7 linked regions of the Homo sapiens genome follow. The protein of the gene in region 5 purifies or fractionates together with the protein of the main gene of each other region. This does not show direct contact. Each region holds a gene or a part of one and is shown on either strand. Other genes may lie near its edges.

Region 1 (3,500 bases), on a different chromosome or scaffold from region 5:
GCCTCCAGATTGAAAGGGGCCTCCTGTGCTCCAGAGAGAGACAGTCCCAGGATGTGAGAGCCAAGGAGGCTGAGGGGAGGGAGCAAGTGACAGCTGCCCAGCCTGGGGCCAACCCTCTCTGGTGGAGAGGACAGTGGCCCTCGCTGGCTACACGTGTGGTGACAGGTGGGGCCTCGGGATAATCCCAGCCCAGACACTGGGGGATCTATGCTCTGGGCCCCCCTCTACCCACCTCATTGGTTGTGGGACACTGGGGGACTGGGGAGGGGTGGGCAGAGAGACCGCCACTGCCCAAAAAAGCCCCCCAGTTCCGGAAATCCAGGAACAATGTGGGTGACAGGCAGCAGCTGTGGGAGCCCTGGGGCCCCGGCTTTGCTGCTCCGACTCTCCACCTCTCCCCCAGGGGCCACCTCCAGCTCGAGGACACCGCTTGAGCCCCTGCCAGAGTGGGCAGCCACTCCCTGCACAGACGGCCCCCCGTCCACAGGACCAGAGAGCACGGCCCTCTGGCCTTTCATCCTGAGGCGCTGCTCAGAGAAAGGAGGACGGAGCCCCAGGAAGTTCCTGTACTCTCAGCCTCAGTGTCCACATCTGTGAAGTGGGGGCAACCACAGCACCCCCGGCTTCTGCATGCTGCAAGGACGCAGTGACACAAGACAGAAAGGTGCTGTGCTCTGCAAAGAGCCAGCTCTGTCGCTAACCCATCGGGCTGGCCAGGGGCCTGAGGGGGAGGCTGGGCCCTGGGAAGCAGGGCTCCCGCTTCTGACACTACTGCTGCTGCCCGGCCCTCCCCTCCACCCCCTTCTCCTGACCAGGGGCATATGAAGGGAGATGTGTGATCACCTGTCAGCTGGGGACAAAAGCACCTCCCTCACAAGGGACTGCTCGTGGGACGCACTTAACAGTGACTGGCCTAGAGTATGTACGCAAAAAAGCCAAGTTACATGGAGTGGGGGGAGGCTTGGGAGAGAAGGGGAGATGGGACCAGGCCCTGCGGGGAAGGCCCAGGGCCCACAGGGGCAGCTGGGATCTCCCCCAGCAGCCTCGGCCCACACCCTTCTCACCCCACACCCCCTGCCCCAGCACAGGCCCAAGCCCTCACAGAGGACAAGGACCGCTGCATCTTGTCAACAGCATGGAGACAGCGGGCAAGGCCTGCAGACCAGCGACGAAACGGAGCCAGCCAGCTGGGCAGGCAGTATGGCAACAGGCATGGCCTTGGAGAGCAGCTCTGCCTTCTAGGGCCGCAGTCTCATCCCTCACCTGTCAAAAGGGGCTGCTGAGCATCCCTGCCCCAGGAGAGGCCACTGTGAGGATCCTACAGGAGAATGCAGGGAGGCGCTCAGTGCTCGGCATTAGGACAGCGCCACCGGGCGCCGACTACATGAACAGCCAGGGAAGGAGACTCGCTCTGGGGCATGTGGAGACCTGCTCTGCTGCGGTGCCCGCATCTAGCACTCCCGGGCAACTAAGCACGTGGACTTCCCTGTGCTAATTACTAGCTGTTGTACAGGCTTCTTTGTAACTGTGCATGGGGGCGTGTCCTGATGGGTGAAGACCTGCTTGTGTGACCCCCCACCCCTGAGCCGGACAAGGCTCTGCACCCAACTGACTTTGGGTGACAGGCTTCCTATCCCCACGGAAGGCCCCTCAGCTCTCTTACCCTGTTTGAAAAGGAAGGTCAACCCTTGAGCCTGCCTAGGGGACCAATGACAGCTGAGCAGGGGCTGTGGCTTCTGTCCAGGGTGCCTGCCATGAAGCCCCGCCCACCCCAGGAAGTCATGTTTCCATTCTGAATCTCCTGCTCTGTTGCTAGGGAAATGGCTCCACTGATCTAGAATGAGGCGGCCCGGAAGAGGGGGGAGGCAAGGGATTAGCCCTTGTCCCTGGGGCCAGCAGCTCTAACTCCTGTCACTCTCAGCCCTGGGTAATCCCTGCTAGAGTTGGGGGTGGGCTCTCTGGTGGCCAGAGCAGCTGCCACCCACTTTGGCCAGGCGGGCCCTACCTGCCAGGGGGTCCTCTCCCACAGTGCCTTTGGGGGTGAGCCCTGAAAGGTCCCAAGAGGCAGGTAGGCCAGGGGTCGATGGGGAGCTGGGCATGAATTGCAGGTCCCCCAGGCACCAGCACGGCGGCGTCAGACACATGACCACATGTGAAACACTGTCCACAGCTCGGACGAGGTCCCCACGCAGGTGGGGGAAGTCCTGGCCCCTAGCCTATGCTTGCCTCTGCCCGGCCTGTTGAGGCAGCATCTGGGTCAATCTCTTCTGAGCCAGCCTAGGCTGGACCCTGTTTTTGCTCTGGGAGAAGCCCCCAAGTTTCCCTGATAAACCCCTCAGCCCACTTCTCTTCTGCAAGCCAACAACCTCCGTCCTTAACTTGACTCTGGGACAAACCACAGTTGGTGGGCAAGGTTTGAGGTAACGTGACAGAATGTCCCTGCAACACAAGCAAGAGAGGAGCTCGGGCCTGGAGGGGCTGCCCCTGCCCACAACGGTTCCAGCTCTGGGGGGACAGCAGCTGGCCCTATGGGTCCCATTTGATGGGTGGACACGAGGGCCTGGAGGCCACTATCTCGGCTCCTGCTAGCTCGATGCCGAGCCCCTGGGAAGCCTGAGGAAGCCCGGAGGGAGATGGGTCCCTAAGAAAAAGCTAGGGCAGCTGCATGCTCTGTACCTGCCCCGTCCACAAGCCCAACATACACACTGAGGGAAAACAAGACGGGCACGTGTCCTTAATGATGACACCACTCCAGAGCCCTGAGCACGGACATGTATTGAAACAAAGCTCCTGCGGGATGCCTCACTATTCCCTGCAGGTGGGAGGGGCTCTGTTCTAGGTGCGAGCCCAGCGCTGGGTCCTCAGCCTAGGAAAGCACCAGGTAGGGGGAACCTGCTAGAGGGGGCACTGGATGGGGCTTGGTCCCTGCCCTGGGGAGCTCAGTGGTTGTAGCAGGCTGGCCAGCTCCCAGAGTCTCTGCCCAGCCCTGGGAAATCATCACCTCCTCAGACAGGGGCCTTAGCACATTGCTCAGGACCTGGGACACTGTGTGCTGGCCCCAGTGCGGGGTTGGAAAGACTGTAAGAGTCAGGTTCCCTCAGGGGCCAGGGAGCCAGAGGCCAGCCTCCCAAGCAGCTCCTCACCTGCACTTCCCGCTTAAGTGGGCAACACCGTGTTTCATTCAACCAGAAGGACCAGAGAAGAGGCCTCCTGGGCTTCAGCGACAGAAGCATCAAAATGCAACTCAGAACTTAGCACTGCCAGGGCCTCCAGCCCATCTCCAAGCAAAACATACTTGAATCCACAGCAGCAACTCCAACATCAGGATGGAAAACGCCCCAATCCACCATTCTAGGGTCGCTCCTGGTGCGAGCGGAACATCCCATCAGTTAAGCAAGCACCACCCTAGGCTGGCAGAGATGCAAACGTGAGCAAGACAAGAACGACGACCTCCCAGGGCAGCTGGTGACAGATACCACAGGACAGAGGCCAATAAGCGG
Region 2 (3,500 bases), on a different chromosome or scaffold from region 5:
GGTTACACTGCTCCTTCCTGGCCACCCATACTATCCCCCAAGTACAATTTTTTTTTTTTTAATAAACAGCAAAAATGAATGGTTATGTTTATCAAGTTTTAGAGTTATCTCCTGATCATGCAGGCTGATGCATTTGGTAGGATTTTAACAAAAGCTGGTCTATACCATTCCAGTACGGGTTAGACGGCCATGCACGCAGATCCTTCATGGGCACTTGTGAAGCACATGTGAATTATCACTGCTGTCGGACACAAGAATCCAGTGCCACAGTCAGTGAGAACACAGACAATAGTATTGTCTTTGTTGCTATTGCCAGAGTGAAGCGGTACTATTGCCAGAGTGAAGCGGTATTCCCTTTATTTTAACGAACATGTCCTTGCAATTTATTTTGAGGAACAAGATTATGCACAGATTAAAACAATTTCGGAATTACATGGCCAGATAAATATCAGTTATTTTTTTCCATATGTTAAATCACTGTTATATGCTTTTTTTTTTTAAGCGCTTAACAATTGTGTTGGAGAAAGGACATCAAATGATGCTTAGAAATGTGATACACATTTTCATTTCACACTCCATCAGCTTTTACAACTGTAGCTCAATGAAATGTGAGAGAGCTTGGCAAACGGCCATATTTACCAAGGTATAAAATAGGGGTCAGGTTACTTTTTTATAGAAAGAAAAAAATGTTTAATTTTCACTCCACATGACTAAAGTAGATATCCAGCTAACACCCTTCTGAAAGGCACCATAACTGCATATATGATATGGTTTAGTGCCTGTTCAGCTGTAGGTTTTTACTACAGTATAAACAGCTTTGTAAAGCAAGAAAACACCCCTTTCTTCATCCCCTTCCACTCAGGATCTACTGACATAGAAACATACTGGATCAGATCATCTTTTGGTGTCAACATTTTCACCTGCAAATAATGGCTTTTACCCCCTGCTTCTAAACTGGAAGCAGAAAGAGCTTATTCTCTTTACAGCCAGAGAAGCAAAGCTATCGGCATCAGCAAAAACACATCTTTCTAATTCAGATTTCAATCTGTCAGAAAGGATTAAAGCCTCATGCATACATAAAAAGGGAACTATAAATGATAACAGAAACATGGCCTGGAATCACTGTGCTTCCACAGCTGCTGTTTTACTAGCAGGGTAGAGAGGAGAGCATCTTTTACTTACCTTTGTCAAACCCGAGACTTCTCCCTTTGCTAGCGGTTTGCTGATGGAGGGCGTGTACACTTTGGCATCAGATACTGGCTGCCCTTTCATAAAATGTTTGCCTGATTCATAGATGTCCACTTCAACCATCTTCCCCATGAACGCAGGGTTCTTTGGCACTAAAACCTTAAACACATTTGTTTCAGAGGCTTAATTTTTAAAAATAAACATTTTACTTTAGAACAGTTTCAGATTTATAGAATTATTGCAAAGATAGTATGGAGAGCTCCTGTATACCTAACTCCCAGTTTTCTTATTATTTACCGTCTTACATTAGTATAGCACTTTTGCCACAATTAATGAACCCAAATTGATATATTAATATTATTAACCGAAGGCATACCTAATTATCCAGGTTTCCTCATTGTCCCTCAATGTCATTTTTCTGTTCTGGGATCCCCTACAAAGTGGACTCTATCTTCTAGCTGCTCAAGGGTCTGCAGAGCCTGCAGGAAGGAAAGGCACTCCTGGGAGGGGCTCCTGGGCCCCTGGGCAGTGCTTTTCCAGTGCAGGATGTGCCTGATGTCCTGAGGCACGTGGAAGGCAGACCTGGGAAATCCCCCAGCAATCAGCCAGCCACTTCTGGACAGGCCTTTGATATCTTGCTTTTGGCTATTCCATGCAATGAGGAAAACCGAGACAATACTGATGAAAGCCTTATACTTTTAATACTTTCCAAGTGAGCTGTCAGAGTAATGGTTTGAAAAGACACTTCAAACAGGCCTGCGTGTTTGTGTCCGTGCATGTGTGTGCTGTGTTTTGAGGGAGAAGGAGGTACATTTAAAAGAACCTTCCAATAACACTGTACACTGCTGTTTGGAGCTAAATGACTCCTGAAACTAACAGCTGCCGTTCATTTCCCTTGCTCTGTTAGAAAAGGCATGTGTTTGTCAGTCCTGGGAATCTACCTCCATCTAGAACCAGTCCTCTGAAGGGTACTTTGGCTTGTTCACAGGAAACTGTCAGGTGGTCTCTTTCCACTAGAGATTCCTGATAAAAGTACTTGTTTACTTCAAGCAAACGTTTCCCTTCCTTTGGGACCCACAGGTAGCTTGTGTGTGTGATGTCTCCCTTACACTTCTATTTTAGCACTGCAGCGACTTGCCAGTCTTTTCAAGTTAGAATCCAAAATAAATAGACCAGTTCTAATCCAGTAATACTTGGATATCTAGATACAATCTTCATCTCTGGAACTCATCTTATTTAGAAAAATAATTCCTAGAAAATCTTTGATATGCTTAGTTATAGAGACAGAAAAGTCAGATGAGAGCCAGGAGTTCCACAGCCAATCTCTCTGAAAGGCAAAATTGAATCTTGGTCTGAGTTTGATTTTTATGACCACTGAGTACACTGCTTCATCAAAGTAGAAGAAAAAGGTCACCTGGGTGGTGAATTACTTAGGGCAGGCAAAAAGAACTAAAAGAGCTTTAGTGTTAGGATATAAAAAGCCCATTTAAATCAGTTTTTATAAAATAAGAAAATCTCTAGACCAAACTAACCCTGGGAGATTTGGTACTATTCTGGGGAAAAATAACCCTCCTTGATCTGCTGCCTTGATCTGAATGAAGGGCTCAGTGTTTTCCCCTCCTCCAGTTTTAATAATTGGAAAAAGCCCGACTGCTTTAAATTGGAGGAAGCAGCTAACGAGGCATGCCACTGCCTTTAAAATGAAGGGAAAAAAGTTCCCTGCTGAGGCAAAACCCAGATGGCAAGAGAAAGGAGAGAGAAGAGGCAACCAAAATGCAATCAAGCTCCTCCCCAGGGCTGAGCAGAAGGTTGGCCTGAATAGGAAAATGGCCCTCTGGGGTATATTAATGAGATGGGGAAATGGGGAAGCGATGCAGGCCAGACATGGAGTGCTGGGAGCCCTTCCTCAACTGCAGTCTCCACCGGTACTGAACAGAGCACGTTTAGTCTGGGCTTTGAAAAGCTCCCCTGTTTCCTGGGGACGCACTGCCCAGTCTGAGATGATTCCCTGGGGAATGTCAATGCTGGGGGCCTCTTCAGCTCCTGCTTTCCTGCCTTCTGACACAGGCAGCCTGCTTCCTCTGCCCATCCCTCATCCGACTTGTCCACCTTGGCCTTCAGCATCTTCTCAAGCTCTAATTCCAGCCATGATCCATAGCAAACATTTTCACCTCTTATCTGATAAGAAAGAAGCAAAAAAGTAGGAAGCTCCATTTGATTTTAATACAATCCAGAATGATCAGTGAAAATCTCCGTACGCCCATGACAGTCTCCCACACAGGCTATCATGAGATGGGAGACACAGGCTACCA
Region 3 (3,500 bases), on a different chromosome or scaffold from region 5:
TATCATTGAACTTTGTAACTAAAAAGCATTGTAAAAATGTTATTCTGAATTGCTCTTATAGTATATACTGCTAAGCAACTTCTCTGTTAGGCTTGCTTGACACTCCAAAACAAATAAGGTACCCCTACTATGTGCACAGCACCCATACTTCTCCAATTATCTCCCAAACATGCTGTCTTCAATGTAACTGCTGCTCATTTGTCTGTATGCTCCACTAAACTGTAAATAAACTGTAAATCCTATGAGGGCTCCCCGTCTTTTTTTTTTTTTTTTTTGAGACAGGGTCTCCCTCTGTCGCCTAGGCTGGACTACAGTGGTGCAGTCACAGCTCACTACAGCCTGAACCTCCCAGGTTCAAGTGATCCTCCCACCTTAGCCTCCCAAGTAGCTGGGACTACAGGTACACACCACCAAACCCAGCTAATTTTTTTAAAAAATTTTTTTGTAGAGACAGGGTCTTGCCATGTTGCCCATGCTGGTCTCCAACTCCTGGGCTCAAGTGATCCTCCCACCTCAGTCTCCAAAACAAAATGCTGGGATTACAGGTGTGAGCCACCATGCCCAGCCTCCCATGTTGTCTTGTTCACTGTCATATTCTGAATGACTCACTCATATTAGAAACAAGCACTCAATAAACAAACAAGTAAATCTTGACAGAAGAAAAGTTCTTCCTTGCAGACTTTTGCTAATGAAAGTCCTGATAAAGAAGATACTAAATAGCAACCTCTGAGTGCTAAATACTGACTGGTAAGAACAGAAAGAGAAAATTAAATACTAGAATATAACCACATTTATAATTACATAATTGGAAAAGAATAACCATGCTATCAACTAAGGGAATATGACTCACCATCATATTTTGCTAGGACTGCCTGAACATCTGGATAGGCCTGTAATTCTAAAAGTGATTCTAAGAGATTTTCATGGATGTTCAACATGGTAAGAGGAGGAAATTCTTTCATCAACTGTATATTAAAAGGAAAAGAAAGATTAAAATCATAACAAAGGAACTCAATAGAGCTGAGCCAGATTCATTAAGTAGAAATTCTTGTTTCTTACCATAGCTGTGAAGAAGACCTAACCCTTAAGAAAGGTACGTATATTAAATAAATACCTTGTTCTAAAAACTACCAATTAAAATACAATGATTCTGCATTAAAATAACTGGCAACTTAACTAAATTTTTAGTTTCTGGAGGAATAAATGTAATAGTCCCATCATCAATTTACTTACATCTCTCATTATTTTTACTGCTTCTCTTATTCTTCCTAATTTTCTTGCACACATTGCCAATCTTCTTTTAATATATACCAGTACATTGGTATCTCTCCCTATTTAGAAAAACAAAAAAATGATACAACTATCACTTTTGTATTGTGGGCTGCTATTTCATTAACATATCCATTAATTTTATTTGCTTCCCTTGGAAGAGTCAATTAAAATTAAATTGTGTCAGAATGGAAGAATATTAATGATGTCTACATTTGGATGATAAATATTGAACAGGAGTGTTCTCTATTTTTGCGCATGTTTCAAGTTTTCTGTATTAAAACTTAAAATACACATTTAATTATTTTTGCCTCTAATAGTAACTTAAGTACAGTATATATAATTCGTGTATGATTGACAAGTTTATTTTACCATTAGCAAAAAAGAAATACATACATTATAGTAAGATATAACATTAACCTAGTATTTAAGTTTGTGCATAAATGATCTACTATTCTGATACTCTCTATTGTTTTAAATGAAAAACAAAAAATGTCCAAAACAAAATTTCCATGGCTAATGTAAACTTTTCTTAACAGTGAGTAGTTGACAAACTATAAAACTACTTCTAGAAAGAGCTAACAAATATTTCTGTAACTAGCTCATAACCGTATTTGAGATTATTCAAAGACAAATGGCATGACATTTTTAAAGATGTAGTTTCATTAGTTCCAGGCTACAAAATTATATATTCCCACAGATTTGTGTTATAAAAACTGTGCATTAATGAAACATACCATATATATCTGTATTTAGCTTAGGGAGAAAAACATTATCCAAATTTTAATTTACACATAAAAAAAGATTTAGAACTTAGCTGCCAGTAGATAATGCATTATATAAACATATTTCAATTTATTACCCACTATTTGCCAAAATCATGAAACTAAAACCCTCTGGCCATAAAAATAGCAGGAAGCAGCATCATTGCTGATTCTAACATCTTTGGTAAAAAAAAATCTCAATCATAACTGGTAGAGCATATCTAAGAACAGAAAGGACTTCTGTTGCTATGGCTCATCTGATCTCAAGCACATCATGGAGAAAAATCAACCAAAGAAAGAATCAATGCCAAGTATGAGGTTGGATTTTGGGCTAAGAATCAGATGGTGTGAAAGGGGCCACTCCCTAGCACTATATGCAGATACACAGTCTGAAGAACCAACCAAATAATGTACCTCTACTGTTGCTTAGAGTAAGGGTGAGGATAAAGATAACAGCTGCTTATCATCACTAGAAGGCTCTCCTGAATGCTGAAAGTTTTTGAGTTATGTTTTTACAATGACCAGCCCAATTCTCACATGAAATAAATTACTGTTAAGTCTCAGAGCAGCACATCTTCTCTCAATAACCTGAGCAGATCTATTCCCTTCCACAAGCATTCTCTGGCTAATACACATTTCTGTCTTGCTGGCTTGTAGGTATTGTGAATAGATTAGTTATTTCCAGTGAAAATTAACTAACCTGTAAGTATTAAGTTTTTTATTATTGTTGTTTGTGTTAAGACACAAGCAAATTACAGATGCTAAAAGACAGTAATAACCAGTTCAAACTTGCTTACTCAGTTGAGCTTCATGCTGAGGACTTTGGTGCTGGCACTGCTGTGACTGCCTATAAATTGTTTCTCCTGCCTTGAGTGCCTGTTTAAATAACCTTTCAGCATCTACAATAGTTGTTGCTTCTTCCTCAGCCAGTAGAACATATGCAGTGGCACAGCTATGAAGAAAGCAAGAAGGCAATTTTAAATAAAATGGTAAAGCAAGTGTTTTCTCTTGGTTATGTCCCTTTGCTCTATGTCATATTTCCTTACCTACACTTTTTCCATCTTTAGAAAAAAAAAAACCTTCGTTCAATATTTTACCTTAATAGGGGCACATTGGTATATTCTTTATGTCTGATTCCACAATTCTTCCACTTTCTTATCTTTCCCTTCTCTTTGTTTTTTAAAAAAAAAAAACAAAATTTTTAAACTTCTATCTCATTCTCTGACCCATTGTCCTGTGTTTTCTTTTTGTGAAAGGGGGGAGAAAAGAAGATTTATAAAGAATTATCTGAATTGTATACCCTCTACTGGTCATACCTGCTTTTTTTTTTGAGATGGAATTTTGCTTTTGTCACCCAGGCTGGAGTGCAATGGCCCAATCTTGGCTCACTGAAACCTGGGCCTCCTGGGTTCAAGCAATTCTCCTGCCTCAGCCTCCCGAGTAGCTGGGATTACAGGCATGCAGCAC
Region 4 (3,500 bases), on a different chromosome or scaffold from region 5:
ATATATCTGGGCATGGTGGTGCGTGCTTGTAGTCCTAGCTACTAGGGAAGCTGAGGTGGGAGGATCACTTGAGCCTGGGAGGTCAAGATCATATCACCATACTCCAACCTAGGTAATAGTGTGAGACCCTGCCTCAAAAAAAAAAAAAAAAAAAGAAAAGAAAAATATTAAAATAAATAATATAAATATGTATATTATTTATAAATATTAATAATATAATAAGTATTGGCCGGGCACGGTGGCTCACGCCTGTAATCCCAGCACTTTGGGAGGCCGAGGCAGGAGATAACGAGGTCAGGAGATCGAGACCATCCTGGCTAACATGGTGAAACCCCGTCTGTACCAAAAGTACAAAAAAAAAACTAGCCGGGTGTGGTGGCGGGCGCCTGTAGTCGCAGCTACTCAGGAGGCTGAGGCAGGAGGATGGCGTGAACCCGAGAGGTGGAGCTTGCAGTGAGCCGAGATCACGCCACTGCACTCCAGCCTGGGCAATAGAGTGAGACTCCATCTCAAAAAAATAAATAAATAAAATAAAATAATATAGTAAGTATTATAATACTACTATAATGATATTATATCATTGTAAGTATTATAATACTTACAATAATATAGTAACAACTATATTACAATAATAACAACTATATTATTGTAAGTATTATAATGCTTATTATATTATTGTAAGTATTATAATACTTACTATATTATTGTAAGTATTATACAGATGGAAGCCTGTATACTGTAAGTAATATGCAGATCAAAGCTTCATCTCTCCCGACTTCACTTTCATCTTCCTCCCCTTTGAATTTCCCTCCTTTCCTCCCCATCCTGCAGCCCTCCTCTCCCCCGAAATCTTTGAGCCACTGTCCTCTCCAAACCCTCTCCTTCTGTGATGCTGTTAGGGCTTTCAAGGTGGGCCACAACTCAACTTCTCTGTCTTGGAAAATATAAACTTTGAGCCCCACTGCCAGTGATGCTGCCGACCTCAAGGAGTGCTGAGTGTGAGGAAGCTGAATCCCATCCATTTATAGTCTTTTCCAGCCACCCATGGTCAGGCCAGGGACAGATCTGGACAGAAACAATTCCATCCAGCTCAAGCCTCTGAGGTACAATGGTCATCCGTGGCCCCCTCCCCTCCTCTCCCAGTGGTGGTGTCGTGGGAGGGGCCGGGTACCCAGGGCAGACAGAGTAGGGTCACAGCAGAGCAATCAATTCCAGCAGTCAATTCCAGCAGCGACTTGAGCTATAAGTGAAGGAAGTCGAATGGGGACGTTTCAGGTTCCAAGAAGGGAGTAGGGTGCCACAGCCGGTAACTATGGACTTGCTACTGTACCTCTTTTTTCATATTTTGAGGATTCCTGGTGGACTGAATTAAATTACCCATAATCCTTAGGACATGAGACATTCTCTTCATTGGTCAATACATAGCCCTACTTTATGTCTAACGAATTACTTTTTAATACTGTAATTAGCACCAGTGCTATGAATGCACACCCGTATAGGAGCGAGGCCTTGACCACACCTGTGTCTAACCTGTGCTTCCCCATCCCCTTGCCTCCCCCTCAAGGTGACTACCACCTGAATTCCAAGCTCCTTACTCCCCTGTTTCCTTTTTTATATAGTTTTATTTTCCGTCTCTATGTATTCCTAAAATTTTATTTAAAGGGTATAATATTATAGGTAGTGTTGGAGACTTGGTGTTTTTTTTTAATTTAATATCATATCGCTGTAAAATATTTCACTGTCTTGGCTATAATGTAGTTTATTCACCCACTCTCCTGCTGGTGGGTCGGGAACTGTTTATTTGCCTGCTCTCCTGCTGTTGCCAGGTTTCTGCTTTTGTGGATGATCGTGAGCATTCTTGTCAATGTCCCTGGTCAACACCTGCAAGCGTTTCTCTTGGGTACTACCCTAGGAGGTAACTGATGGACTTAGGGCACGTGAGTTTCAATTTTCAGAACTACTGCCAACACGGTGTTCAAAGTGGCTGCAATGTGTGAGAAATCCTGTCAGTCCTCATCTTCTCCAGCACTTGGCTCACATAGACTTTTACATTATTTTCTAATCACATGGGTATAGAATTGTACCTTACGATGGTCTTGATTTGTGTTCCCCTGATCTGTACCTGTCTTCACATGCTTATGTATTTCCTCTTCTCCAAATGCTGGCTCATGTCATGTACCCATTTTTTTTCTGGGTTGCCTGTGCTTTTCCAGTTACATATAAAGGATGTGTATATTTTCTTTTTTCTTTTCTTTCTTTCTTTCTTTTTTTTTTTTTTTTTTTTTTGAGACGGAGTTTTGCTCAGTTGCCCAGGCTGGAGTGTAAGTGGCATGATCTTGGCTCACTGCAACCTCCGCCCCCCACCCCAGGTTCAAGTGATTCTCCTGCCTCAGCCTCCCAAGTAGCTGGGATTACAGGTGCATGCCATCACACCAGCTAATTTTTGTATTTTTAGTAGAGACGGGGTTTGCCATGTTGGCCAGGCTGGTCTTGAACTCCTGACCTCAGGTGATCTGCCCGCCTCAGCTTCCCAAAGTGCTGGGATTACAGGCGTGAGCCACCGTGCCTAGTCCAAGGATGTGTATATTTTCTATAGACTCTTGATGATAATCCTTTGACAGCAAATATATTGTGTATACATATAGATAGAGAGAGAGAGAGGGAGAGAGAGAGAGTCTCCCTTTGTCACCCAGGCTGGAGTGCAGTGGCACAATCATAGCCTGCTGCAGCCTTGAATTCCTGGGCTCAAACAATCTTCTCACCTCAGCCTCCTTAGAAGCTGGGACTACAGGCATGTACTACCATGCCTAGCTAACTTTTTATTATATTTTTTTGTAAAGATGAGGTCTGACTTTGTTGCCCGGGCTGGTCTTAAACTCCTGGCTGAAAGTGATCCTCCTGCCTTGGCCTCCCCAAGTGCTGGGATTACAGGTGTGAGCCATGGCATCTGGTGTGAATATCTCCTGGTAAGTGCCTTGTACTTTCACTTTCATTAAGATGTCTTTCAACCTTGTGAAATTATCTGAAAACCAGGGATGAAACACTGTTCTGCTCCATCTTCCCTGCAGGCACCTGGTCCCCATCCTCCTCTCTTGCCCGCCTTTTCTAGTGAATGGCCGGATAGGAACTATTGCAGGTTTATGGGCCATATGGTCTCTGTTGCAAATATAACAGCTCTGCTATTGTAGTGCAAAAGCGACCACAGACCATATATAAACCATCTTTCCTGCATGGCCTCTATAATCTTTAAGAAACACACATTGGGTCACATCACTGCCTGACTTAAAACTTATAGATGGCCTCTTCCCTCTCCTAAGCTATTAGGTTGGTGCAAAAGTAATGGCGGAAATCGGCCGGGAGTGGTGGCTCACACCTGTAATTCCAGCAGTTTGGGAGGCTGAGGTGGGCGGATCACTTGAGGTCAGGAGTTTGAGATCAGCCTGGCCAACATGATGAAACCCCATCTCTACTAAAAATACAAAAATTAAAATTAGCCAGGG
Region 5 (3,500 bases):
ACCAGGGCCTGAGGAATACCCTTTGCCACTCTAAGGCCAAGTGCAGCACCACAAGGGGCCTGGAGCACCGGCCCTCCAGAAGAGGGCAGGGCAGGGCAGGGGTGGCAGGTACCATGATGAGGCGCTGTGCCAGGCGGGTGCGGGCCAGGAAGTAGACAACACGCAGCCTCTTGGGGAGCCGCAGGTTTCGGAAGGAAGACGGCTGCAACGTGATGGTGTGGGGTGTGGACGGCCTCACAGCCAGCTGCCGCTCGTAGCGCGTTGGCTGTCCCACTGGCTTGGCTGAGGGCAGGCAGGCCTCAGGGGGCAGTCGCTTGTTCAGGTCTGCTAGCTGTTGGGGGCACAGTGGTCAGGGCCTGAGTCCACCATCCAGAGGCTGCTCGCACAGGACCGCTGTCCTGCCCGAGGTCTACACCCTTCTCACCCAGGACTCCCTCAGTACAGCCAGGGCTGAGGAGGCGGGCAGGGCAGGGCTCAGCCCACTCCTACCTCCATCCGGCGAATGTCAATGGACAGGACAGTGGTGAAAAACAGCATCTGAAGGAAGAAGTCAGACACCAGCCCCACGACAGCAAAGAGACAGAACTCCTGGAATCAGAGCACATGGGGATGGGGGGGTGCCGTGACCTCACTGTCCCAGCCCAAGAGGAGCAGTACCCGGACTGCAGCCACCTCATAACCGGCAGGGCAGCAGCAGGCAGGGCACAGCAGAGATGAGAGATGCTGGTTGGTCCTCAGCTCACATACCAGCAGCAGCTCACCCCGTCTCCACCAGGGGGCAGAAGAAACCCTCACACTTTCTTCAGAAAGGGCTGAAAGGGAAGGGGAAGTACCTTCCCTGAATCTTCCGGTCCCTCTAGAGGGGACTGAAGGCCTGATCCAACCCGGAAACCTCTAAGCCCCACCAGCCTGCTCCCCAAAAAGTCCTTCCCCACTGAGCCCCCGCCCTGCTCATGCATCACCAACCCAGCTAGAGCCCAGGCCTGATTCAGGGGCTCTCAGAAAGGTTCCCAGCCAGCAACTGCCCCGGAACAATGAAGAGAGAGAGAGAGGGATTAATTCTCTAAAACTGAAAAAGGGTGAGCTCTCTGCTCCCCAAGCTCTGTCAGCAGACAAAATTTTCTGAGATGTCGGTGTTGAGACCTCTAGCACATCACCACAGTGCTACTCCGATCTGGGGTAAGACCATGGAGTGCAGATAGTGGCACAGTGGTTGTCTCAGCTCTAACGTCCCAAGACTGTACCCTATCCTGCAGATACTACTGTTTTTCCAGGAGAAGCAGCCCACAGCCCATCTGTTCTCTGCTCACCCCCATCCCTCAGCTGGCCTGCCAGCCCTGGGGGAAAGACGGGCGAGAAAAGATGGCATCCTCCCCTTCCTGCAACTCCTTCTGGAATGGCTGGCATCAGTCTGGGGTTCCAGCTCAGTGCAGGGCCACCTCCACCTCTGCTCACAGCCCACAGCTGAGTGAGGGCACTTTGCCAAGAGCAGGGTCACTCTGGGCAATGGGTGGTGGCCCTCCCACTGGTCAGGCCAGGCAAGGCCATGCGTCTGGCGACTGCGGCACAGGCCAGGGCCAAGGGAGGAGACCGGAGGAAGGGTCTAGGAACCCCACGGTGCTTCTCCCTCAAAAATGGGAAACAGGTGTGACAAACTGCACAGCCAGTCCCCAGCTCCTGCCATGCCCTTGCAGCCTCCTCCTGCCACTTGGCTGAAAGGGAAGCAGGCAGGGAGGGGTAGGAAGACAGGGTCAAGGGCAGAGTCTGCCTGGCTAGGTGCTCAATCTGGGAACCCAGCCAGGGTTTGCTGAGCACTTCTGAGCCAGGCATGCCAGGGGCCATCTGGGTGCTGTAGTGATCTGCTTGCCAGGCAAAGAGGTCCCACCTCAGAAGCAAGGATGCCTGTGCTGAAGAGGGGAGCACCCTGCCCATGGCTGCACAGCTGGGGAGCACAGCAGTTGCTTCCATGCTCATCCAGGTGGCAGGCCTTGGGGCCTTACCTGGATGGCGGGCACTAGGGTGAAGTAGCCGATGAGGATGATGCCCAGCTCCGTGGCCATGTTCTTCATGATGGACCAGCTCTCGCTGCTTAGGCCTGCAGAGGGCAGCAACAGGGCACAGGGCAACACATGGCCACTCTGCGACATGACTCACACAACCTCATGGGCCTCGGAGTGGCAGAGGCATGGCAAGGCCCCCCAGCCCTTTGAAGGAGCCATTCCACCAAAGCACCCCAACCCTCAGGGTCCTGCTAATGCCCAGACTTTAAGGGGCCATCACCACCACACAGCTGCTACGGGGAACGGGTGTTCACAGCCTGGAGGGTGCAGAGGAGAGCTATAATCATCAAAAGAGGGAAGAAGCAGAGTGTGGAGATGAGAAAATCCACAAGGAAAGCCAAGTGCCACCCACAACAACCACATCCAACCTCCGCATGTGGTTCTTGTCTGGTCTGCACGGGCCAGCATGACAGTGTGCCCATCAACCACATGGCAGAAGCACTCGGCGGGTAGAGGACCTGGCTGCGTTCTTCCTCAAGCCCCTTCCTGTAGTGAGCCCTGATCCCACGCTATCACACTGTCGCATGTCTAAGGCTCTGTGCTCTTACTGGGTAAGGACAATTTCGCCCCATCTCTTCCTAACTCCATATCCAGCACAGGGCCTGGCTTATCACAGAGGCTCACAGAGGTCTGGATGAATGGACGGCTGCCTACAGCCCCATTCCTCACAGACATGGGGTGACGAGGAAGAAGAGGCTCAAGTGACCAGGCCTCCAAGGCCAGGCTCTCCCTTTTCTCATTTTCCCTAGAACCCCAGATCCCCAGTTTCTACCAGCAGGGCCAGAGGGAGCTTTTCTGGCAGCCGTGAAGGCAGCGTCTCTGAAATGGCCAGCCCCCGGGGCTTGGGCCTAGTGTGCTGGAGTGAGGCAGTAAGAGAAAATACTAGGCGCTAAACTCCCCAGACAGAAAGCCACCACCAAACACAAGCCCCACCCACACTGAAGTGCAGTGGTGTGATCACGGCTCACTGCAGCTTTGACCTCCCAGGCTCAAGCAATCCTCCCACCTCAGCCTCTTGAGTAGGTGGGACCACAGGTGCATGCCAATATGCCCTGCTAATTTTTCTATCTTTTGTAGACATGGGGTTTCACCATGTTGCCCAGGCTGGTCTTGAACTCCTGGGCTCAAGTGATCCACCTGCCTCAGCCTCCCAAAGTGCTGGGATTACAGGTGTGAGCCATGGCACCCAGCCTGGTTTACTTTCTTACTGACACATGAACCAGGACGAAGTACAGTCCAATGGCCCCATGGCTCCCCAGGGCACACACTCAAGAGCTGCCAGGGCCCAGTGGCCCACTGCATATTATGCCGGAGGCAAGAGCAAGGGACATTTCAAGGGCTCTGTTTGCTCACAGAGCGTTAACAGCAAGAGGAACAGGCCCCATTCCAGCCCCTCCTGCAGCCCTCTGCCCAACTCTCCCACTGCGTTACCTTGGGCGA
Region 6 (2,783 bases), on a different chromosome or scaffold from region 5:
TCCCTTGTTACTCAACATCTTAATAGTCTGCTATTGGCTCAGGAAATACATCCCTTACTCTTGCAAAACAAAATTAAGCTAAGTCTTCTGGAATAAAAACATAATGCACTTAAAAACAAAGGGAATGACATTTGGAGTATCTGTAATTTGTAATCATGCTGACGCTTCTCCTTTATCTTTTAAAATTTGCAGTGGCTGAGAGGACTACTAACTAGTAGACAGAGTTTTAACATCATATTTGGTGAATGTCCATATTGTAGTAAGGTAAGCAAATTGTTAATCACATCTCATAAAATGTGCCTAGCTTTCAGTAATATGTTCTAGAAGATAGATCTATATAGTATATCAGTTTATCTAAAACTTTTGAAACTCATTCTCTGTATTTCTATTTTTCAAATTCTCTGATCAAAAACATTAAACTCCTTTTCTAGATTTCCTAGGTGATCTGAAACTTCAGAAGTGTTTTCCAAACTGTACTATGACACTATTCTATGACACTATTTCTAGTACAAAGCAATTTTATTTTTTAGAGTGTCCACAAACTTTGTTAAAATATGTTCTCTTTTTAAAGCCAATTACCTTAAAAATGTCTGGAAGGAAACACTGAAATAAGAATACAACATTTCGGTGAAGAGCTGGAAACTTAAAAAATTATCAAAAGGAATTTTGGTATCATCTTCAGAGAAAAAATAAAGCAAGAAATACTAACATCAAAAGGACAGGTATGATGATGCGATAATAATAAACATCTGCGTTTGTCTCTTCACTAAGAGTAAACTGGGAAATTGTAGGCCAAAGTCCAGTTGAACTTTCTAAGTCTGTGATCCCCGTGCTGACTGTGGAAGTGTATTTATACCAAGATGGAGATCTTGACTTCTTGAATATATCTGGACTGGTAAAATCTTGATGAGGCTCATAAAATGAGTTTGGGAATTGTGTATAGCTGATTTTTTGTGGGAAACTGTTTACTTCATTCAAAGGTTCTTGAGACTCTTGATATTTCTGTCTTCTCCTTGTGCTTTCCTATGGAAAAAATACATATATAGTTTAGTTTGTTAGACGTGAGTTATCCAAGTATTTATTTTGTGTAGTGTGTAAGAATGCTAAATAAAATGTTATACAAGATCAAGTTTTTGCGTGTTATTTTTCCTGAGAAGTAATTTTTAGGTAAAGATCTTAAAGATTTACACTTTTTAAGAGTTTATAAACATCCAACAAGCAAATCTGGATATAATTTGAGTGGTTCTTTTAAACCACGTCAGTAGGCCATCTCTTAAGTAATTTATAATCTAAAAATAAATAGGATAGAATATGAAAACTGAATTTTCTTGGCAAAACCAAAAAATTGGGCTTAATCTTAAGGGGGTAAGATAGCCATAATTAGAAATATTTTGGTCATTAATGTGATTCTTTCTTTACCTTCTGATTCCATGGCAACTGAGAAGTGTCCACTGTACAGTGGGCAAAGGATGAGGCTGTACACAGCCAAAGAAAACTGCCTCAGGGGTAGCTATAGTGTTATGTCTCTTGGAAAGCTATACAGACGAACCAGTATAGACCGAATAGATATTAATATAAAGCAAATTAAGTGGTATTAATATAAAACAAATTAACTGGTTACTTATGCAAGTTTCGGGAGCTACTTCTATGTTTTCATCATTCCTGTTGGCCAAAGTCCCAGGAATCAGTTTCCTGATCACCACTTAACTGGCTGAAAGTCGAGTTTTTCTGCTTTGCTTTGGTGACATCTGGCATGCCCCCTCAGCACCATTTATCAAGTAACTAACTTAGAAGAGAAGAAATTTATAAAACAAAGCAAAATACTTTAAGCTTGTTCACTGTCCATCATTCTCAGAATAGCTACTACCTTCTCAACCTTTAAACTGCCACCCTTCAAACAAACAGCCCTCCCCTTTCTAGATACAGAGTTTTGGAAGTGTCAGAAAGGAGTCCTACATAAAACAAAGGATGTTTTAAAAACTACTAGCTTTCCTATGAAAAAAAATTACTTGAGAGTTAAATGACTCACTTTAGAGTTAAATAACTCATTTTAAACTACTCTTTCTGAGCTAACGAAGTCACATTAATGCAGTTTTTCATAAGTTTGTCAGCTTTATTAACTAAAGTCAAAATAAGTGAATAATTATTCCAGTAGGCCTATAAAGCATAATACAAATAATAATTATGCTATCAAATCATAGAGCAGCATTTACATATAGCTCACATGTGCAAGGCTGGGAGATATCTCCACTTAGGTAAGGATAGAAGTCAAGCTACTATAATTTCCAGAATCATCTACTGTGTAATCTATACACTTAATCTCTCTTGAACATCAGCAAATGACATCATATGGCAAGGCACTCATCAAAGAATTTAACCACCTGTTGTCTTCAGTACACTGAGGGGGTCTGATTAGGATAGTCTATAACAGGAGTTGCCAAAATTTGGCTTGGCTAGTTGCCTGTTTTGTGAATAAAGTTTTATTGGAACAGAGCCACATCAATTTGTTTATGTATTGTCTATGTGGGCTTTTGCACTACAATGGCATTGTTGAATAGTTCTGACAAAAACTGTATGGAAAGTAAACTGAAAATATTTTCTTTCTGGCCTTTTAAGAAAAGGTTTGCTGACCCCTGCTCTACGGCATTATTCTTCGAGTATTAGAAAGCAAACAGATCATCATAACTTGTTAAAATGCAGATCTCATTCAAAAGGTCTAGGAGTATGACCTGAGATTCTGTATTTCTGAGAAGCTCCAGATGATGCCAATACAGCTGGTCTGC
Region 7 (3,500 bases), on a different chromosome or scaffold from region 5:
TCTCTAAAAAAACCAAAAAACAGGCCAGTTGCAGCGGCTCATGCCTGTAATCTCAGCACTTCGGGAGGCCGAGGCAGGCGGATCACCTGAGGTCAAGAGTTTGAGACCAGCCTGGCCAATATGGTGAAACCCCTGTCTCTACTAAAAATAAAAAATTAGCCGGTGTGGTGGCACGCACCTGTAGTCCCAGCTACTTGGGAGGCTGAGGCAGGAGAATCGCTTGAACCCAGGAGGCAGAGGTTGTTGCAGTGAGCTGAGATGGCGCCACTGCACTCCAGCCTGGGCGACAGAGTGAGATTCCATCCCCCCCCAAAAAAAATCTGTGATCACGTGTTTTTTTCTTATAGTACCTATTGTCAAGGTTTAGGTATCAGGGTTACATTAGCTTTATAAAAATAAATCAGGAAGATCCTGCAACAAAAAAAAGGGAGGACAGGCCGGGCATGGTGGCTCACGCCTGTAATCCCAGCACTCTGGGATGCTGAGGCGGGCGGATCACGAAGTCAAGAGGAGAATCACTTGAACCCGGGAGGCAGAGGTTGCAGTGAGCCGAGATTGCACCACTGCACTCCATCCAGCCTGGGCAACAAAAGTGGAACTCCATCTCAAAAAAAAAAAATCTCATTATTTTCTTCTACAATCCACTTTGGTAACTTATATTTTGCTAGAAAATCAAACATTTCCACAGGGCACGGTGGCTCACTTCTATAATCCCAGCACTTTGGGAAGCCAAGGCGGGCGGATCACAAGGTCAGGAGTTCAAGACCAGCCTGGCCAATATGGTGAAACCCTATCTCTACTAAAAATACAAAAATTAGCTAGTGCGTGCCTGTAGTCCCAGCTACTTGGGAGGCTGAGGCAGAAGAATCACTTGAACCCGGGAGGCTGAGGTTGCAGTGAGTCGAGATCGTGCCACTGCACTCCAGCCTGGGCAACAGGAGTGAAACTCCTTCTCAAAAAAAAAAAAGAAATCAAACATTTCCTTCAGATTTTCAAATCTGTTGGCCTAAACAAGTCCACAATATTCTTTTATAATTCTTCTATTTTCTCCCGTATCTATATCTTTCCACTTCTGAAAATAGTATACTTTGGTTTTCTTTTTCTCCTTAATTAGGCTAACCAAGAGGTTTTCTTCTTTATTCATATATATACGTATATACACGTATACATACACGTATATATATATATACGTGTATATATATGTGTATATATATAAAACATATATGTGTGTGTGTGTGTATATATATATATATTTTTTTTTTTTGAGACAGAGTCTTGCTTTGTTGCCCAGGCTGGAGTACAGTGGCGTGATCTCAGTTCACTGCAACCTCCGCCTCCCAGGTTCAAGTGACTCTCCTGCCTCAGCCTGCCAAGTAGCTGAGACTACAGGCGAGCACCACCACGCCCAGCTGATTTTTTGTATTTTTAGTAAAGATGGGGTTTCACCGTGTTAGCCAGGATGGTCTCTATCTCCTGACCTCATGATCCACCCGCCTCAGCCTCCCAAAGTGCTGGGATTACAGGCGTGAGCCACCGCGCCTGGCCTTTTTTTTTTTTTTTTTTTTGAGACAGGGTCTCACTCTGTTGCCCAGACCAGAGTACAGCTGTAGTGGCATGATGTCAACTCACTGCAACCTCCGCTTCCCGGGTTCAAGTGATTCTTGTGTCTCAGCCTCCCAAGTAGCTGGGATCACAGGCACGCACCACCACGTCCAGCTAATTTTTTTGTATTTTTAGTAGAGATGGGGTTTCGCCATGTTGGCCAGGCTGGTTTCGAACTCCTGGCCTCAAGAAATCCACCCACCTTGGTCTCCCAAAGTGCTGAGATTACAGGCATGAGCCACTGCGCCTGGCCTAATTTTTGTATTTTTAGCAGAGACGGGTTTTACCATGTTGGCCAGGCTGGTCTCAAACTCCTGACCTCAGGTGATCCTCACGCCTTGGCCTCCCAAAATGCTGGGATTACAGGTGTGAGCCACTGTTCCCAGCCTTTATTCATAATTTTTTTTTTTTTTTGAGACAGAGTCTCGCTCTGTTGCCCAGGCTGGAGTACAGTGGCATGATCTTGGCTCACTGCAACCTCCGCCTCCCAGATTCAAGCGATTCTCCTGCCTCAGCTTCCCGAGTAGCTGGGACTACAGGTGTGTACCACCATGCCCAGCTAATTTTCATATTTTTAGTAGAGACAAGGTTTTGCTATGTTGGCCAGGCTGGTCTCGAACTCCTGACCTCAGGTGATCCAACCGCCTCCACATCCCAAAGTGTTGGAATTACAGGCATGAGCCACCGCACCCAGCTTAGTCATAATTTAAAGAACCAGTTTCTGGTTTTATTTTTAGTTAGTTTTCACAGGTATTCTTTTTCTAATTTTATTAGTTTCTGATCTTATTAGTACTAATTTTCTTTACACTTCCTTTAAGTGTAAAGGAAGTGTATAGTCCTCTGAAAGAGTCTTTCCACCCCGTAACCCACAGACACATTGTCCCCACAATCCAAAAAGCCCCTAGTTCTCTTTCTCCAGATTAGAGTATTCTCAGCAACCCACCTTGATCTTACTTCTGCTTTTCCCATAGCCCTGGGAAGTGCTGTGAGGACAAAGAACTTCTCCTTTCAGACGTCCTCACCACCCACCATGCCTAGCATTGCACAACTCTCAGGCCAAGGTAAGGCAGGCTACTAGGACTTACCGGGTAGACAAGGAGGTAGGGTCCAGGGTCCAGATAAGAATGCAGCTCTGGCAGGCCACAGCCAAGACAGAGGCACTAAGGGGCTTCCAGGCCAGAGACGCCACATTTCGCTGCAGCCGGTGCTTCAGGGAGGGGACTATGGTGCTAGGGTGAAGGGGCAGGAAACTGAGTCAAGGCAGGAACACTAAGGCTCCAGGGACCAGAGTGCAGTTAAGGAGGGAAAGCCACAGAGAAGAAGGATGATCCATCCAGGGGCCAGGGGCACCATAGGACAGGAGGGGATAAAGGTTAGGTCTAGAAGAAGCACGCATCCAGTTATGGAGCTTCCCTGACCCCAGTTCTGGAAGGAGCCCCATGAATCAGGTTCAAGAACTACAGGACTCCCCGGAACCAAGGCTGGCAAGGGAAGGTGATATTGACAAGTCAGAGCCCACCTGGTGTCCCCACACACACCTGCTGGCATTATACACACGGACTGAGTCATCTAGCAGGGCCACTGCAAACTTGTTGGTGTGGGGGTGCCATGCAAAGACACGCAAGCAGCAGCTGGACCTAAGGAAGGGGTTAACATGAAGAGTTCCTGCACCTATCCCTACCCTAGCCCAGAAGCTCACATTCATTTCCAGTAAGGACATGGTTTTTTCCTACTTTTTCTTGTATTCTTTTTTGGGGGAACAGGAGGAATGAGAATATGGTGAGCAATCAGAAAAGGAGTAGGAGTCTTTGCCTTCTCCCCAAAGGGAGTTTTGAGGTTCAGGACTTCCTTTCCACAAAGCTCCAGGGCTTGTGCACTCACCAATTTGTGACTTGGGC

What was found.
Region 1: the proteins of SCAP (region 5) and TMEM201 purify together in Homo sapiens (affinity purification with mass spectrometry; one large-scale study listed by BioGRID and IntAct). This does not show direct contact.
Region 2: the proteins of SCAP (region 5) and CDKAL1 purify together in Homo sapiens (affinity purification with mass spectrometry; one large-scale study listed by BioGRID and IntAct). This does not show direct contact.
Region 3: the proteins of SCAP (region 5) and ST7L purify together in Homo sapiens (affinity purification with mass spectrometry; one large-scale study listed by BioGRID and IntAct). This does not show direct contact.
Region 4: the proteins of SCAP (region 5) and EVA1C purify together in Homo sapiens (co-immunoprecipitation; one large-scale study listed by IntAct). This does not show direct contact.
Region 6: the proteins of SCAP (region 5) and VRK2 purify together in Homo sapiens (affinity purification with mass spectrometry; one large-scale study listed by BioGRID and IntAct). This does not show direct contact.
Region 7: the proteins of SCAP (region 5) and AAAS purify together in Homo sapiens (affinity purification with mass spectrometry; one large-scale study listed by BioGRID and IntAct). This does not show direct contact.

What each region holds. Positions count from the first base shown.
Region 1 is NC_000001.11:9,591,911-9,595,410, reverse strand, and holds part of TMEM201 (transmembrane protein 201), read right to left. Parts: intron 1-3,500. UniProt on the Homo sapiens protein: Critical regulator of angiogenesis and endothelial cell (EC) migration. Promotes the migration of endothelial cells, which is essential for angiogenesis.
Region 2 is NC_000006.12:21,198,957-21,202,456, reverse strand, and holds part of CDKAL1 (threonylcarbamoyladenosine tRNA methylthiotransferase), read right to left. Parts: intron 3,367-3,500; coding exon of another isoform or gene 2,968-3,366; exon of another isoform or gene 1,868-2,967; intron 1,348-1,867; coding exon 1,183-1,347; intron 1-1,182. UniProt on the Homo sapiens protein: Catalyzes the methylthiolation of N6-threonylcarbamoyladenosine (t(6)A), leading to the formation of 2-methylthio-N6-threonylcarbamoyladenosine (ms(2)t(6)A) at position 37 in tRNAs that read codons beginning with adenine.
Region 3 is NC_000001.11:112,581,142-112,584,641, forward strand, and holds part of ST7L (suppressor of tumorigenicity 7 protein-like), read right to left. Parts: intron 2,986-3,500; coding exon 2,831-2,985; intron 1,332-2,830; coding exon 1,234-1,331; intron 966-1,233; coding exon 851-965; intron 1-850.
Region 4 is NC_000021.9:32,510,206-32,513,705, reverse strand, and holds part of EVA1C (protein eva-1 homolog C isoform 1 precursor), read right to left. Parts: intron 1-3,500. UniProt on the Homo sapiens protein: Binds heparin.
Region 5 is NC_000003.12:47,420,442-47,423,941, forward strand, and holds part of SCAP (sterol regulatory element-binding protein cleavage-activating protein), read right to left. Parts: coding exon 3,492-3,500; intron 2,096-3,491; coding exon 2,001-2,095; intron 589-2,000; coding exon 490-588; intron 332-489; coding exon 113-331; intron 1-112. UniProt on the Homo sapiens protein: Escort protein required for cholesterol as well as lipid homeostasis.
Region 6 is NC_000002.12:58,157,589-58,160,371, reverse strand, and holds the end of VRK2 (serine/threonine-protein kinase VRK2), read right to left. Parts: intron 1,130-2,783; exon of another isoform or gene 1,024-1,129; coding exon 679-1,023; 3' UTR 608-678; coding exon of another isoform or gene 572-607; 3' UTR 501-571; downstream 1-500. Other genes in the region: E3 ubiquitin-protein ligase FANCL, read left to right, coding at 193-324. UniProt on the Homo sapiens protein: Serine/threonine kinase that regulates several signal transduction pathways.
Region 7 is NC_000012.12:53,311,611-53,315,110, forward strand, and holds part of AAAS (aladin), read right to left. Parts: coding exon 3,484-3,500; intron 3,240-3,483; coding exon 3,141-3,239; intron 2,832-3,140; coding exon 2,688-2,831; intron 1-2,687. UniProt on the Homo sapiens protein: Plays a role in the normal development of the peripheral and central nervous system.